Homo sapiens: one gene and its partner. The protein of the gene in region 1 interacts with the protein of each later gene in a pairwise test. Each region holds a gene or a part of one and is shown on either strand. Other genes may lie near its edges.

What was found. Proteins that work in one complex are often made in the same cells at the same time.
Region 2: the proteins of TAGLN2 (region 1) and GDAP1 interact in binary tests that used the Homo sapiens proteins (3 or more experiments, as listed by UniProt).

Annotation. Positions count from the first base shown.
Region 1 is NC_000001.11:159,922,499-159,929,997, reverse strand, and holds the start of TAGLN2 (transgelin-2), read left to right. Parts: upstream 1-4,490; 5' UTR 4,491-4,548; exon of another isoform or gene 4,549-5,519; intron 5,520-6,046; exon of another isoform or gene 6,047-6,120; intron 6,121-6,263; exon of another isoform or gene 6,264-6,527; coding exon of another isoform or gene 6,528-6,562; intron 6,563-7,499. Other genes in the region: IGSF9 (protein turtle homolog A isoform a precursor), read left to right, coding at 23-107, 184-360, 605-647, 980-1,840, 2,111-2,238, 2,472-2,653.
Region 2 is NC_000008.11:74,346,451-74,353,420, reverse strand, and holds the start of GDAP1 (ganglioside-induced differentiation-associated protein 1), read right to left. Parts: upstream 3,019-6,970; 5' UTR 2,960-3,018; coding exon 2,843-2,959; intron 2,150-2,842; exon of another isoform or gene 2,148-2,149; coding exon 1,955-2,147; intron 1-1,954. UniProt on the Homo sapiens protein: Regulates the mitochondrial network by promoting mitochondrial fission.

The DNA of each region.
Region 1 (7,499 bases):
TGGTACCCCATCCCCATCGCAGGATGTTCTCTACGAGTTCCGCCTCGTGGCCTTCGCGGGCAGCTTCGTCAGCGACCCCAGCAACACGGCCAACGTCTCCACTTCCGGTGAGCACCTGGCGTGAGGGAGGAGCCCCAGGGCTGCTCCGAGTCCACTGACCCTCCCTCGTGGACCCCTGCCTAGGTCTGGAGGTCTACCCTTCGCGCACGCAGCTGCCGGGCCTCCTGCCTCAGCCCGTGCTGGCCGGCGTGGTGGGCGGAGTCTGCTTTCTGGGAGTGGCCGTCCTTGTGAGCATCCTGGCCGGCTGCCTCCTGAACCGGCGCAGGGCTGCCCGCCGCCGCCGCAAGCGCCTCCGCCAAGGTAAGTCCCTCCACCCTCAGCCCTGCTACTGCGCACTTGGGCCTAGCCTCCTTAAGCCCCTCCTACCTGGGGGAAAAGCCCTCGCTCCTGTGTGATCCAGGTGCATTCTCTTAGTCCTGCATCTGGTCCTGCCTACGCTTTTCCCAGCCGGATGGGGTTGGGCGCCTGGTGTTGGGTGAGAGAGTCTCCGCCTAGAGGGCCTTGATTTTTGCCTGTGTCACCTACTATTCTCATGCCCTTCCAGATCCACCTCTTATCTTCTCTCCGACCGGGAAGTCAGCTGCACCGTAAGTGCCTCCACCTCCTTGGCTTTCTTCTGCCTTTCCATTGTACGTGCCAGTATCTTCTGCTTCCTTTTTTGCATCTTTACCAGGGGGATGTTGGGTGTTGGGGAGGAACAAAAGTGGGAGAGGGTAAGAAGGGGTGTGCAGTGGCCCCAGCCTGAGGCCGTTCCAGTATGGCCTGTGCCTTCCCTCCACCCCTCCACCTTGTTGGTCCTTTCCTCGCTTGTTCTTCCTAGCTCTGCTCTGTTGTTCACCAAACCTCTCAAGGCCTGACGCTGGCTCCTGGGAGGGGGACCTGCCCCTACCACAGACCCTGATCTCCTGTCCTTCCCCAGCTCTGCTCTGGGCTCAGGCAGTCCTGACAGCGTGGCGAAGCTGAAGCTCCAGGGATCCCCAGTCCCCAGCCTGCGCCAGAGTCTGCTCTGGGGGGATCCTGCCGGAACTCCCAGCCCCCACCCGGATCCTCCATCTAGCCGGGGACCCTTACCTCTGGAGCCCATTTGCCGGGGCCCAGACGGGCGCTTTGTGATGGGGCCCACTGTGGCGGCCCCCCAGGAAAGGTCAGGCCGGGAGCAGGCAGAACCTCGGACTCCAGCCCAGCGTCTGGCCCGGTCCTTTGACTGTAGCAGCAGCAGCCCCAGTGGGGCACCCCAGCCCCTCTGCATTGAAGACATCAGCCCTGTGGCACCCCCTCCAGCAGCCCCACCCAGTCCCTTGCCAGGTCCTGGACCCCTGCTCCAGTACCTGAGCCTGCCCTTCTTCCGAGAGATGAATGTGGATGGGGACTGGCCCCCGCTTGAGGAGCCCAGCCCTGCTGCACCCCCAGATTACATGGATACCCGGCGCTGTCCCACCTCATCTTTCCTTCGTTCTCCAGAAACCCCTCCTGTATCCCCCAGGGAATCACTTCCTGGGGCTGTGGTAGGGGCTGGGGCCACTGCAGAGCCCCCTTACACAGCCCTGGCTGACTGGACACTGAGGGAGCGGCTGCTGCCAGGCCTTCTCCCTGCTGCCCCTCGAGGCAGCCTCACCAGCCAGAGCAGTGGGCGAGGCAGCGCTTCGTTCCTGCGGCCCCCCTCCACAGCCCCCTCTGCAGGAGGCAGCTACCTCAGCCCTGCTCCAGGAGACACCAGCAGCTGGGCCAGTGGCCCTGAGAGATGGCCCCGAAGGGAGCATGTGGTGACAGTCAGCAAGAGGTGAGAGCAGTCCCTGCCCATCCCTGCCTCCGCCTCAGTCCCACCCCAGACCTCTCACCCCTCTCCCAATACCCTGCACCTTCTCTGCTCCACTCCCACCCTGGGAACGGGAAAACTTGTCCCTTTTAGAAGCTTTTGCTGAGGTCCAGGGATTTTTCAGGGGAAACCCATGACCTAACGTGAGTTTGCGGTCGCTGAATTCAGACTTTTCTGAACAGCCTCTATTCCTCCACCCACACCATATGTTTGTCTTTTTTTTTTTTTTTACAGGAGGAACACATCTGTGGACGAGAACTATGAGTGGGACTCAGAATTCCCTGGGGACATGGAATTGCTGGAGACTTTGCACCTGGGCTTGGCCAGCTCCCGGCTCAGACCTGAAGCTGAGCCAGAGCTAGGTGTGTGAGCCCCCCGGAAAGGCAGGCATCTCGGCCATACTGTCCCACATCCCCCCGCCACCTTAGGACCCATCTATTCCCAGTCAGGCCCTGCCTCCCAGGCTCCTCTGCTCTAGACTGTGCCTTGCCCCCTTGGGCCATCTGTACTGGAAGGGCCTAGCGAGCTTCACATCTGAGCTCTTCACTCAGTGAACCTCAGGGCTTCTTCTCATTGTCCTGCCCGCCTCTTGCAGGTGTGAAGACTCCAGAGGAGGGCTGCCTCCTGAACACTGCCCATGTTACTGGCCCTGAGGCCCGCTGTGCTGCCCTTCGGGAGGAATTCCTGGCCTTCCGCCGCCGCCGAGATGCTACTAGGGCTCGGCTACCAGCCTATCGACAGCCAGTCCCCCACCCCGAACAGGCCACTCTGCTGTGAACATCCCTGATGTGAGGCTGTGAAAAGGCATATGGACCTGCAAAGGAGGCCCCCAACCAGACAGACCTAGTTTCAAACGAGGGCACTGCCCCTGCCTGCCCCTTTGGTGCCCAGGCACAGACCCTGATAGTGGGTTTGGGTCACCTTGGTATGGAATGTATGTGCTGACCCCCTAGGTGAGTCTGGGGATTGGAACAGGGATCTTAGGTCTGCCTCTCTCTCTCTCTCTCTCTCTCTCTCTCTCTCTGTGTGTGTGTGTGTGTGTGTGAAGTTTTTTACAGGTGAATAAACAAAGTTTGAAAGATGTTTCTGTGTGTTATCTGTCTTTGAGAGAGTGCCAGGAAAATCCCTGGACCCTTAAAGAAGAGGAGAATCTTCTTGAATAAATGGAGGTGCATTCAGCATTCATTCAAGAACATTTATTGAGTGCTTACGGAGGCCAGCTACTAAAGGCCAGCCACTGAAGTAGATACTGAGAAAATACAAAGCTCTGGAAGCACGCCTTTGCCCTTGAGGAGTTCTTTCTAGTCAGTGAGGCGGACAAAGAAATAGTTACCGTATGATAAGTTCCGTGATAAAGCTATGTGTTGGTTATTGTAGCACAAAGGAAGATGTTGCATTCAAGGCCACCTTTAGTGAACGCTAATATCGTGTGCTGGGACAAATGCCACATATTGGGGGGGAGTCCTCAGGACCCTCACAGATAGATGGTGGTAATAATAGTATTCACTATGTGCCAGGCACTGCTCTAAGCCCTATAGGTGGACTGTTTAGTTCTCTACAATTCTATGAATTAGGTAGTACTATTAGCTCTGTTCTATAGACCAGGGAACTCAAGCATAGAATGCACAACAGTCACACAGCAGGTAAAGGGTAGAGCAGGTGGGGAGCCAGTCAAGGAAGGGAAACTGTCCTAGGCAGAGGAATAGCCTTTGTAAAGGCACAGAAGAGTGAGAATGCTTGACAATCAGTGGGACTGGAATATAGGGCTGTGTAGGACTCGGGGAGGGAACAGAGAATAATAGAAAGGTTGGACAGGACTGGATATTGACATCCTGGAATCTCAGGTTCAAGGGAGGACTCTATCATGTGTGCAGAACTCCACCCCGGGGGACTCTATTCAACTGAAGCCTGAAAGGATGGGGGGCTCTTTCTCCACCCCTGAACTGTGCTGTCCTCCACCCTCAGAGACAAAAGAACCCCAGCCAGCCTCCTCGCGCTGAGGTCTCCCCCTCTGATCCCTCCAGGATTTAGGAAGAGATACCAGGTCATAGAAAAGGAGATGAAAGGCAGGGAGAAGACAGGTCTGAGCCCTGGGTCCCAACACCGAAAACACCCCTAGGGCCCTGGGCAGAGTGACCTCACTGTTAGTCCCTGCCCAGGCTTGAAGTAAGAGGTGAGCAAGATCACGTGGGGGTGCTGTCCCGGCCTGCAAGTCCCAGTCCTGTCACACACTAGTCAGTTGGGGTCGGGGGAAGGCCTTCCTGTGCCTCCTTTTACCTTGCCAGCCTCTAAACTAGGAGGCTTCTTCCTACATAAACACGCCCACAGTGTTTAGCTAACTTTCTAGGCAGAAAGTTTCCTACTGGGGCACAAGTCTACGGGCTCTCGGTGGAGGCTGAGGTACTCACGGGTGGAGACCACTGCAGCCGCCTTTGTAGATTCAGACTCCCCGAACCTTTAACCCTTGCTCTGGTCTACTGTCCCTCTGTCTCAAGCAGTCCTCCCTCCTTCTGCGCTGCGGCGCCTTTAAACCTTCTTGGCCCTTGCCCCGCCCCGGGTCCGCCCCGTCTGAGGCGGGACCCTCCTGAAAATCCCCGGCTGGGCAGGGCGCACCACTTGCAGCTGCAGCCCTTGCCTTGAGTCAGTGCGCCGCTCTCCAGCCCGCTTGAACGGTGAGCAGGTCGGGGGTACGGGGGTCGGGGACATGTGCGTGCTGTGTAGAAAGCAAGAAGCCAGCGCTTTGAACTTGCTCCAGCGAGCTCGGGGATCAAGGGCTGGTACCAGGCAAGGGTCCGGTGACTACTTTACCCCGCCCCGTGCTGTCAGGTCCTGTCCCCAAGCCCTGACCCGACATTGTTGGACGATGAGGTCAGGCGAGGTTAGCCCATGCATAGACAGGGCGTCCGTCTGGAGCAGGGACTCAGGGACTGAGCCCCACCCGCGGGCTCCATCGCTGAGTCCTCACTGGGGCGAGGGGAAAAAAGGGCGTCGGACTTTAGCTGGCTGGCCCCGAGTGACCCCGGGTCGTGGCGCCGGCCCTGGGCCAGCTCGTGCTCCTGGGCTTTCCCGCGCGACCCTTCACTTCCTGGTTCCAGGAGCACGTGTGAGCACTGCGTGCCCTCTGAGTCCCCGAGGCCGCCCTTTTCATTCCTGTTCCTGCTAGCTTGCTATTCTGGGGACTTGAGGTCACGGGCTGGGGCTAGGGGGCTCTGCATGGGTCGCACGGTGACCTTCTGTGAAGCTCCAGTCATCTCTATGACGGTCCCCTGACCTCGGGGGTCTGGGTGCTGCAGCCCTGACTGCGCCCCGGGGTGCCCTGTGTGAGGTTGTGGGGGTGGTGGTGGCTGCTTTTACCCTGCCCGAGCGCCGCTGCCCCCACCGGGTGCCCCCTGCTGCTGGGAAAGCCGGTGGTGGCCGCGGGCGGACGGGCGGGCTGCCCAGACCACTGCGTCACCCCAGCGGCGGGAGGGCGGTGGGTGACTCATCTGTTGTAACGGCCCAGGGTGTGGTCGTGGGGGTGGGGGGCGGCGGCTGGGAGGCCGGACCTGCAGGACCGGAGGTGGACTGCCGCCTCCCCCCGCGCCCTGTGCCTCCTGGGGCTACCTGAAGCCGGTGTCCTGGGAGATCTGTGAGCAGTTGGTATCTGTGGGGCAGAGAGAAACGGGGTGAGAGTGGGGATGGAGTGTGGGATTCGATGTAGAAGACCTGCGGCTGGGACGGGGCTCCCCCAGTGTTCTCATTGACTTCAAAGCACCAGACAGCAATGGCTCTCTATCTCTAGCCCCCTCCCAGTTTCTCCTCCCCACTACAAGGGGCAGACCTACAACTGCAGAGGAGGCCAAGGCAGGGCGGGCCCAGTAGGGCCCTACCATTCCAGAACCAACAAATAGGTTTTGTCCAACCGCAACTCCCTCCCTCACCCCAAGGCCTCTGCCCCTGTCCCCCACCCCGGGATTGGCCCCTAATCCTTTCTTCATTCCATCCCTTCTCCCTCCAGAATTTTCAGCTGTGGGTTCTCTAGCTCAGAACACTTTCCCTTCCCAGGGGATTTCTTCTCCTGAACAACTACTTCCTGAGTCCTCTTCTTCACCCCAACACGGGTCATTTCCTATCTTCCCCCACACGCTGTCCATCCCCACTATAGCTGTCTCCTGGAATAATCTCTTGCACCTGGCTACACCCGAGCACTGCTGAGACGATCCCACTTCTGCTCCCGTGCTCACAGCCTGCTCACCACAACGTCTGTGTTGACAGGGTGTTTCTGCCCGGAGCCCCCACCCAGCCTCCAACACTGTTTGGTACACAGAAGCCATGGCAACGGCCCCCACCTCATCCCCTCCTCCCACGCAAGCTTTGGAGCTTCCTGTTTGTGTAGCCTCAGCTTTCTCTTCTGCTCCTGACTCTCGGTGGTGAGGGGCTGCCCTACGGTGGTTCCCTTAATTGTGGGCCGCCCCCCATCCTTGCTGCTGGCTGTGGCACCTCGCTCTGTGGGCTGGTGCCCTCACTGTGCTGCTCTTTGAGAACACTCCCTGTCCCAAATCTGAGTTGGGAAGTTCTCCTGTGTTCCATCTGCACGGTGGATGGAGAGTCCCTTTGTCTTCCCAATTAAACACCCTAGCCAAGAACCCTGAAGTCCTCCCTGCCCCCACCCATGTCCGCCTTTTCTTTGGCTTTGGCTTTGGTGAGGTAAGCTTCCAGCCCAGGGTCTGGGTGGGGCCGAGTGCCTTGCGTGGCCCCTCCCCGTTTCCCGCCTATTGTAACTCCAGGGTGAGGGTGAGGGTTGTTCTCACAGCTGCAGTAGCGCTAGGGTTTAGGTTGCTCCCTGCCAGTCCATCCCCCAGGTTGTTCAGCTGTCACCTTCCTTTGGGGTCCCCAGCTCTGGGGGTCCCCCACACCTGTCTTCCAGCTGGGCATATCTCTTCTCACCCTGGTAGGCAACTTGCTTACTGTTTTCTTTATGTTTGAGGGAAGGCAGGGGCAGGTCCCCTGGGTGTCCCTAGGGTGGGCCTTCCCAGCTCCAGCAGCCGCAGCCCATCAGCTTCTGCCTGCCCGTGGGGGTGGGGAAGAGAAACAGCTGCTGACCAGGCCTGGCCTGGTTGGAACTGCCCCTTCTCAGGACCCCGCCCTATGGCTCTGGCACCTCAGAGCTTGAGGGCAATGGCCCCAGAGTGGAGCAGATACACTGCAGCTGGAGGCCGTGACCCTGCCAGCTGTGTCCAGGCCCCAGCGTTGGGCGGTGGAGGGGGTTCCTCAGCATCCACTTTCCACCCAGTGGTGGGTCTGGGAGGCCAAGTTTGTCCTGCCTTGGGGGGTTGGGGGGCACTGGAAGTGTCTGGCTTCAGGCCTTTCTCTCTGCTCTTAACCCCAGTGTCTAGGTTAATCATTCTCCTGCCCTTTCTTTACCTGTGCCATGGTGATCCCCGAGCCTCAGGCCACTTGGTCCCTGGAAACAGCCCTGAGCACAGCCACTCCCAGGAGAGAGGTCTGGAACTGGGCTGCGGAAAGGGGGCTTACTGGTGGTAGTAGCTCTTAGCCCCTTCCTCTTCCTACCTGTCTTCCAGCCATTCCCCTGTGCATCAGAGGTTAGAGGTTTCTATGGTGGAGTGGCCTCTGGGAAGGGCAG
Region 2 (6,970 bases), on another chromosome or scaffold:
TTCTCTTGCTGTCGTCCTATCTACCATAAGTTTTGGGTCCCTTAATCGTTTTTTCGTCCTTCCCAATTGATTGAAAGATATTCAACAAGTTAGTGGCAGCATCAGACTAAAAGCTAGGACTCTTGATTGCTGAGTTACAATAATAGTTCAACCAGAATTAAAGTCTGCACTTTCCATATTTCCATCCTGTCACAGCCTACAGTGCCTTCTCTTCTAATTCTTAAGTAATCAAAAGAACTTAGCATTTCCTTTGTTTGGTTATTTAAATACAACTTAGCAGGACACAGAACTTATTTCTGCTTTGTTACTATTCTGTACTAAAAGCAAAAGAGAAAGACTAAGGAAAATTGTAAGAAAACCTAATAATTGGTAACATTACTATGTTGTAAATATAATTTATATCACTGAATTTCTTAGAGGAAAAACAGTGTAAGGAGGGGATGGAGGAGGGGAATGATGATAGTAGAAGCAGTTCAGGCAATGCTACCAAAAAACTTAAATGGGATTTTCCATTTAGAATACCTTTTTAAAGTTTTTGATCATTTAAAATAGATTTATTAACACAATTATTTTGTTTTGTTCCATTATAATTACATCCCCCAAGAAATACAAATTAACACACTTATCCATTTCCAAAAAGCTCAAGATTGAGAAAAATTCTCTTAAATGAACTAGTTGTCATTTTCAGTACAGTCCCCAGCATATAAATTTATAAGGAATAGCAAATAAAGATGAAAAGAAAGTACATCATTAAATGCTTTGGTTTACGCTAAAGCTACCTTTAATTAAAACCGCCAATCACAATCCTAGGGGACTAGCACTTAGATTAAGAACAGGGGTAGCCCATTGCTAATCTAATTCCCTGGGCTTCCCCCTCGCCACTGCCCACCATCTAGGCCTAATAATACTCATTTTCCTTCTAAGTACATGAGACTTTTTTTTGTCCTAGTAATTTCCTTTGTCAGCTTCCTGTAGTTTGGGGCTAGGTTCTGCTTTCACCTACCCTATTAACATCAACATAACTGGTGGCAGATGAAAAGTAACAATCTCATACAGCCTTTTTAGAAGAGCATTCAGCTGGAAGCTCTGAGCACCATGTTCTGCTCTCATCAATGTCCATTGTGATCAGCTGTGTAGTCTTTGGTAACTCTTTGAAGCTACAGTTCACTTCAAAGGATTATTATTAGGAACAAGCAAGACAATGTGTAAGTGGCAAGGATTATGGGAGACAGTCAGTGTAGTATGAAGGCTTTGGAGACCAAAGACTCTGCCATACAATAGCTATATTACTTTGGGCAACCCTGTTGCTTTCTCCTCATTTACATAATGGGAATAACTTGTCTACCATGCCTGTCTCAGACAGATACTTTTGAAGACATTATTGAAGAAATTATAAAATGTCTGACACATAACAAGCTGTTAATAAATGATTTACCTAAATGCACTATACAAATTTAAGCCCTATAATTCCTTAGTAAAGATATAAAATTCAAACAATTCAGAAGTGACTGGGGCAAAGAACTCAGGTATACTAACATTCTATTCTCCTTTAAGATTTATTGCTCTTTTTTCCCTCTTGTTTTTAAGGTGAAACCATTTGGTATATTAGATGAAATCGTCACAGTGCACATTTAGAATATTATGAATTTAAGACTAAGAAATCACCAACACAAACCACACATTTGCAGTTTTTTGCAAGTGAATTTTTTTAAGTTTCAACATTAACATTTGTATTTTGCATTAAATTATTTTAAATAGCATTACACTAGCCTATACAAAATTTGTTATTGACCTATTTGATATTTGTGTGCTTATGGAAATGGAAAAGGTTTTTAATCCCAAACCACCATCATGACACAAGAGAAAGAGAGAGAGGAGAGAGAGAAAAAGAGAAAGGGAACACATAGTTGTGTTGAAAGTAAATCCAAGAAATCGCAAGTAGCCTTAACATTACCATCCAGGAAAGTCTGTTCAAGATAATCAATGATCTGAGTGGCCTCACAAATTATGTTTTCCCCGTGGATAAGGACAGGCACTTCTCCAGTTGAGTTCAAACGCATAAACCAAGGCTCATTGTGCTCACTCAAGGGCAGACTTACATCATGTTCCTCGCACTTCAATGCCTTTTCAGCAATTACCAAGCGCACCTGGAAGAGTTCACACTGGTTACTACAACACATGTAAGCTTTCAATTAAATGACTTCCCTGGACACCGCTAAGCAGCCTTTCTGGGCTTCCCTGTGTTACCGACATTTTCAACAGTCGTTTTAACAATTCCTATTCCTGGAATTAACAAGTAAGGAAAGAACAATACTCAACAAATTAAGAGAAGAACACAAAATAAGTAATGAAATGATTCTGACTGTATTCATTAAACAGTCACCCTCCTCATCACTACCACTTTCTCGGTGTCCTAAACCTGATTATGGGTCCTCCCCAGACAAGAACCTGACATGTAGGTACATCAGCTCTTGCTGAAGACAGTGAATGCGAGAGAGCAAAAGAAGAGATCGCAGATTATGAGGGTCCACAAAGGCACCTCCCTCTGCCTCTCTCCGAAGACCAGCAGGCAAGGCCTCCAGACCAAATACTGAAAATGATGCTTTTTTGTCGCATTTCGCGAGAGGCGGAGCCTGGGCCATAGCCACATAGGATCATCTCCGATCGATTCTCCCCGCTCCCCACCCGGGCGCGTCCCCGCCTGGAGGGAGCGCCTGCCCGGGGTCAGGACACTGGAGGCGGATTTCTAGGTGGACCGGCTTCCCTGGGCGGGACTCAGAAGGAGCTGTCCCAGTGCTGAAGCCCGATCCGCGCCACCCTCCGCCGCCAAGGCCTGTTGTACCTTTTGAGAGCTGAAGGAATGCGTCCAATGGTACAGAATGAGCTTAACCTCCGCGTCGGCCTTGCCTTCCGCCCTCAAGGGCGGGCTCCCTCTCTGCTCTTCCTGCCTCTCAGCCATCTTGGGGTGCGCGAGCACGGGTGCGCCCAGCCTGTCCGCCCTGGACTTCTCCCTCCCACACTGCCCCGCAAGGCGTTTCCGGGTTTTGAGGGGTACCTGCCGGAAGGAGGGCGCGCGGCCCGCTGGGAAATGTAGTTTCGCCGGCGGCAGAGTCTGCGAACACGCGGGGTCTGCGACTGGAAAGCCCCTGGCAAGCCTGGGAGTGCACCTGGGAGGTGCAATTGAACGGTTGTTTTTTGGGTTTGTTTTTTTTTTTAGAAGAAAAAATAAAAAATATGAGACCCTGGTTATGAAGGGCAGTAAGGAAGAATGATGATAGCAAATTACTCTTCGGTTTGGAGGTTGCTCAGGTATAAAAGCAGCAATTTCCCAAGATACTGAGGGTTGCTCTTGGAGCCTGTTCCTTTGTTGGAAAGGAAGTTCCGGTCGACAAGCAAAGCAACAGGAAAAGGATCTATGAGCTTTCATTAGAAGATGCTACTATGACATTAGTGGACTAATTCCACAAATTTGACTAACTGCTGTAGATTAGAGAATAGTCTTGTATAAACAGTAAGTACTTGATTTTGATAATTAAACTGTGCTTTGTAAAAGAAAAAAAAATACCACTATGGAGTCATGCAAAAAAACTGTTTTTGTCATAAACAGCTAATAAACAATGGCGATATAAAATAGCCTAGTTGTTAAACACAAAAATTCTACAACAGTACTGCCTAAGTTCATATCCTGGTTTTTCCATTTTCTAAGTAAGAATAATAATTTTATTGTTTCCCTCATAAGATTTTTGTGAAAAATTAATAATAAAATGTTAAACACTCAGAACACCCTGTCACGTTGTAGGCACTCAGTCTTAGTCACAGGTTCAGTTGTCTTATAAACATTCTGTTATAACCATAGTCAGAATCATAATTTTATATTAGTCTAGTTATTATTGTATGTCTTTAAAAATTTGGCATCATATAGTAAGTTGATTTTAAAAATCTCTTTCAGTAATATGTATAAATATGACCATAGAATAAATGCCTGTATAATTTATCTGGCAAATATTTATTGAGCACCTACACTGTTCCAGACATTGTGCTGGCTCCTGGTAATATAAAGATGTGTGAAATCTAATATCTAACACTCAAGATATAATCTGGCAGTAGAGACGACCAAGGAAATAGACAATCACAATAAAGATGAGAACTGTCTTAGGGTGAACACAGAGTACTATGAGAAAGGAGGGGCAGGCAGCCAACCCAGGTCAGAGAAGGGCCCCTGGAAAAGACAAAATCTCATGAGGTTCTTCCTTGCCTTTACAGTACTTCATTTGTTACTCTCTGTAATTCTTTCATAATTTTTTAAGATTTCATAATGTCTTTTATATCCTTCAGTTAATTCAAGTGCTATAGAAAAGGTGAATTCCTTGCCAAAATTGTTTTTATCAGTTCACACTTAAGAGTAAGAGCGGAAAGAGGAAAACTTTGAAATCGGACAGAGTGGGGTTTAAATTCTAGCTCTACCCTAACTTGAGCTTTCTTGAGCTTTGACTTCATTGTGTGTAAAAAATGGATACATAAAAATTATATGCCTACCCAGATGGCTGTGGGAATTCAAGAAAGGATATATATAAAGCACCTAGGGTATTGCCTGGAATGTAGCCATTGATAAAAACATATGTGTAAAAGCCCCTTCACTGACATTAGGAGGGCATTATATTACATTTCATCCTCTCTCTGTAGGTCTCAAAATTTTTACAACTACCCATATAATCCTCCTCTCCCATTCCTCTTCAGAACTTCATTTTTTAATTATCCACCTTCAGATTCCTAGTTTTCTATTCCATTACCTTCAATAGCAAACACCACGCTTACTTTTGCACCAACCTTAATACTAAATCATCCTAAATATTTGAATAAATTCCAGTACTCGTGATAAGCCATGTGTCACCTGCAGCTGAAAAAGTCCTGACAATAAAGCCCTGGTCCCTCAAACACAACACTTTTCTCCATCACATCCTGCCCACAGCAAAGCCATAGAAGAAACACTGAATGACTTGATTACTTGGTGTTTAGTACAAAGCATTCATAGATCTCATTGGGAGTGTAAACATGCACAGAACTTCTGAAGGCAAATGTATCAATATGCTTCAAGAATCGTGAAAATGGGCATAACTTCTAACCTAGAAATTCCTCTATTTGCAATTTAAGGAAATAATTCTGACAAATTCTGACAGTTGATCCTACCTATTTTTCCCTTCTTCCGTGGTAATAGAAATTTTAGCTGAGCACATGACTGCTGAGAATAAAGACTGTATTTCCTAGGCTCTATTGCAGCAAAACATGGTCTCCTAACTATCTTCTAACAAGGGGAAAGTCATGGATGTGCCACAGGGCAAGTGCTGGGAATCTTTCTTAAAGAGACAATTAGCCCTGTGCCTCTTCTTCATCCCATCCTCCATCCTGCTTCAGAGAGGATGGATTCTGACCTGGACCATGAAGAATGGGGCCACGCCTTAGGAACAGCTGGGCCATGAACTTGGGGAAAATTGAGCTTCTAAAGACACTGAGGAGCAGAACCCACACCAACTTGGGTCTGCAAACCTCCAAACTTTTACTTGAAAAGGAAAAAAAGGATCTTGTGTAAGGCACTGTTATTTGGTGCTTTCTGGATGCTATTGTCTTAACCTATCCTCATCAATACATCAATCTTGTAAAATATAGGTGGCTTTTATTTCTTTATGATTCTGTATACTCTAATTGTTTTATAATGAATGTGTGTTGCTTTTACCTGTTAAAGGTGTGAACACTAAAAGAATATCATTAAATAGATGACATAAGGAAAAATGTGTTTGTTTTATCACAATAGAACTGCTACATCTACTTCCAATGATCTATAATCACTTTTTTCCCATCCCAATAAAAGCCACTGTTGGTAATATAAAAACCTTATTATCCTTTCACATGTTTATTCAGAGCTCCTACTACACTGTGTATTCTGTGTCTATGGTTTTTGTAGATCATAGACATGATCATTGTGGGCTCCTTGAGGACAGGAGCCAGGTCCAGGTAAATTTGTTTTCAATATACATTTTTTGAGCCTTAAGTGCTAGATAGAGAAGATACAGAGTTCAAAGTCAGTCACAGTCACTGGCCTTAGGGAAATCAAGTGTGAAGGCAGAGAAATGAGATCCCAACACAGTGTGGTACTTGCTGTGACATCTAGAAAGTTATAGTAGGAATATAGAGAAAGGCACCTAACACAGATAGGCTTCCCAGAAGAGGTGATAATCTTTACCATAACTAGTACCATACTAACACAATTACCATTATATCCAGGGTGGTGCCCCCACTGGCTCATGATAGCTGATTGTTAAATTTTCAGGAATTTGCAAAGTGGATGTTCAACTCAGCTATTAATCAAAATTAAATCAAACTGAGTTGCATTTAAATGAATTATTTCCGCCGGGCACGGTGGCTCATGCCTGTAATCCCAGCACTTCAGGAGGCTGAGGTGGGCGGATCACGAGGTCAGGAGATCAAGACCATCCTGGCTAACACGGTGAAACCCTGTCTCTACTAAAAAATTAGCCAGGCGTGGTGGCGAGTGCCTGTAGTCCCAGCTACTCGGGAGGCTGAGGCAGGAGAGTGGTGTGAACCCGGGAGGCGCAGCTTACAGTAAGCCAAGATCACGCCACTGCACTCCAGCCTGGGCGACAGACTCCATCTCAAAAATAAATAAATAGATAAATAATTTTAAAAATAAAACTAGCAAATACTTAAAACTCATCACTTCCTAATTATGTGTATTATTATCTATACTCCTGAGTTTATTTGTGTCTATCATATCCATACAAGGCAAACAGTATATAAGGATGTGCTACTTGCATATCTCTTCCTCTCTGTTCAGTGATGTCATGTTAGTGACTTGAAATTGGCCATGGTAGAACTATTTACAGAAATCGGTAAATGCTATCATGTTTAACTTTTTCCCAGAAAGTTGGTTGTTAAATATTTACTACTATACCAT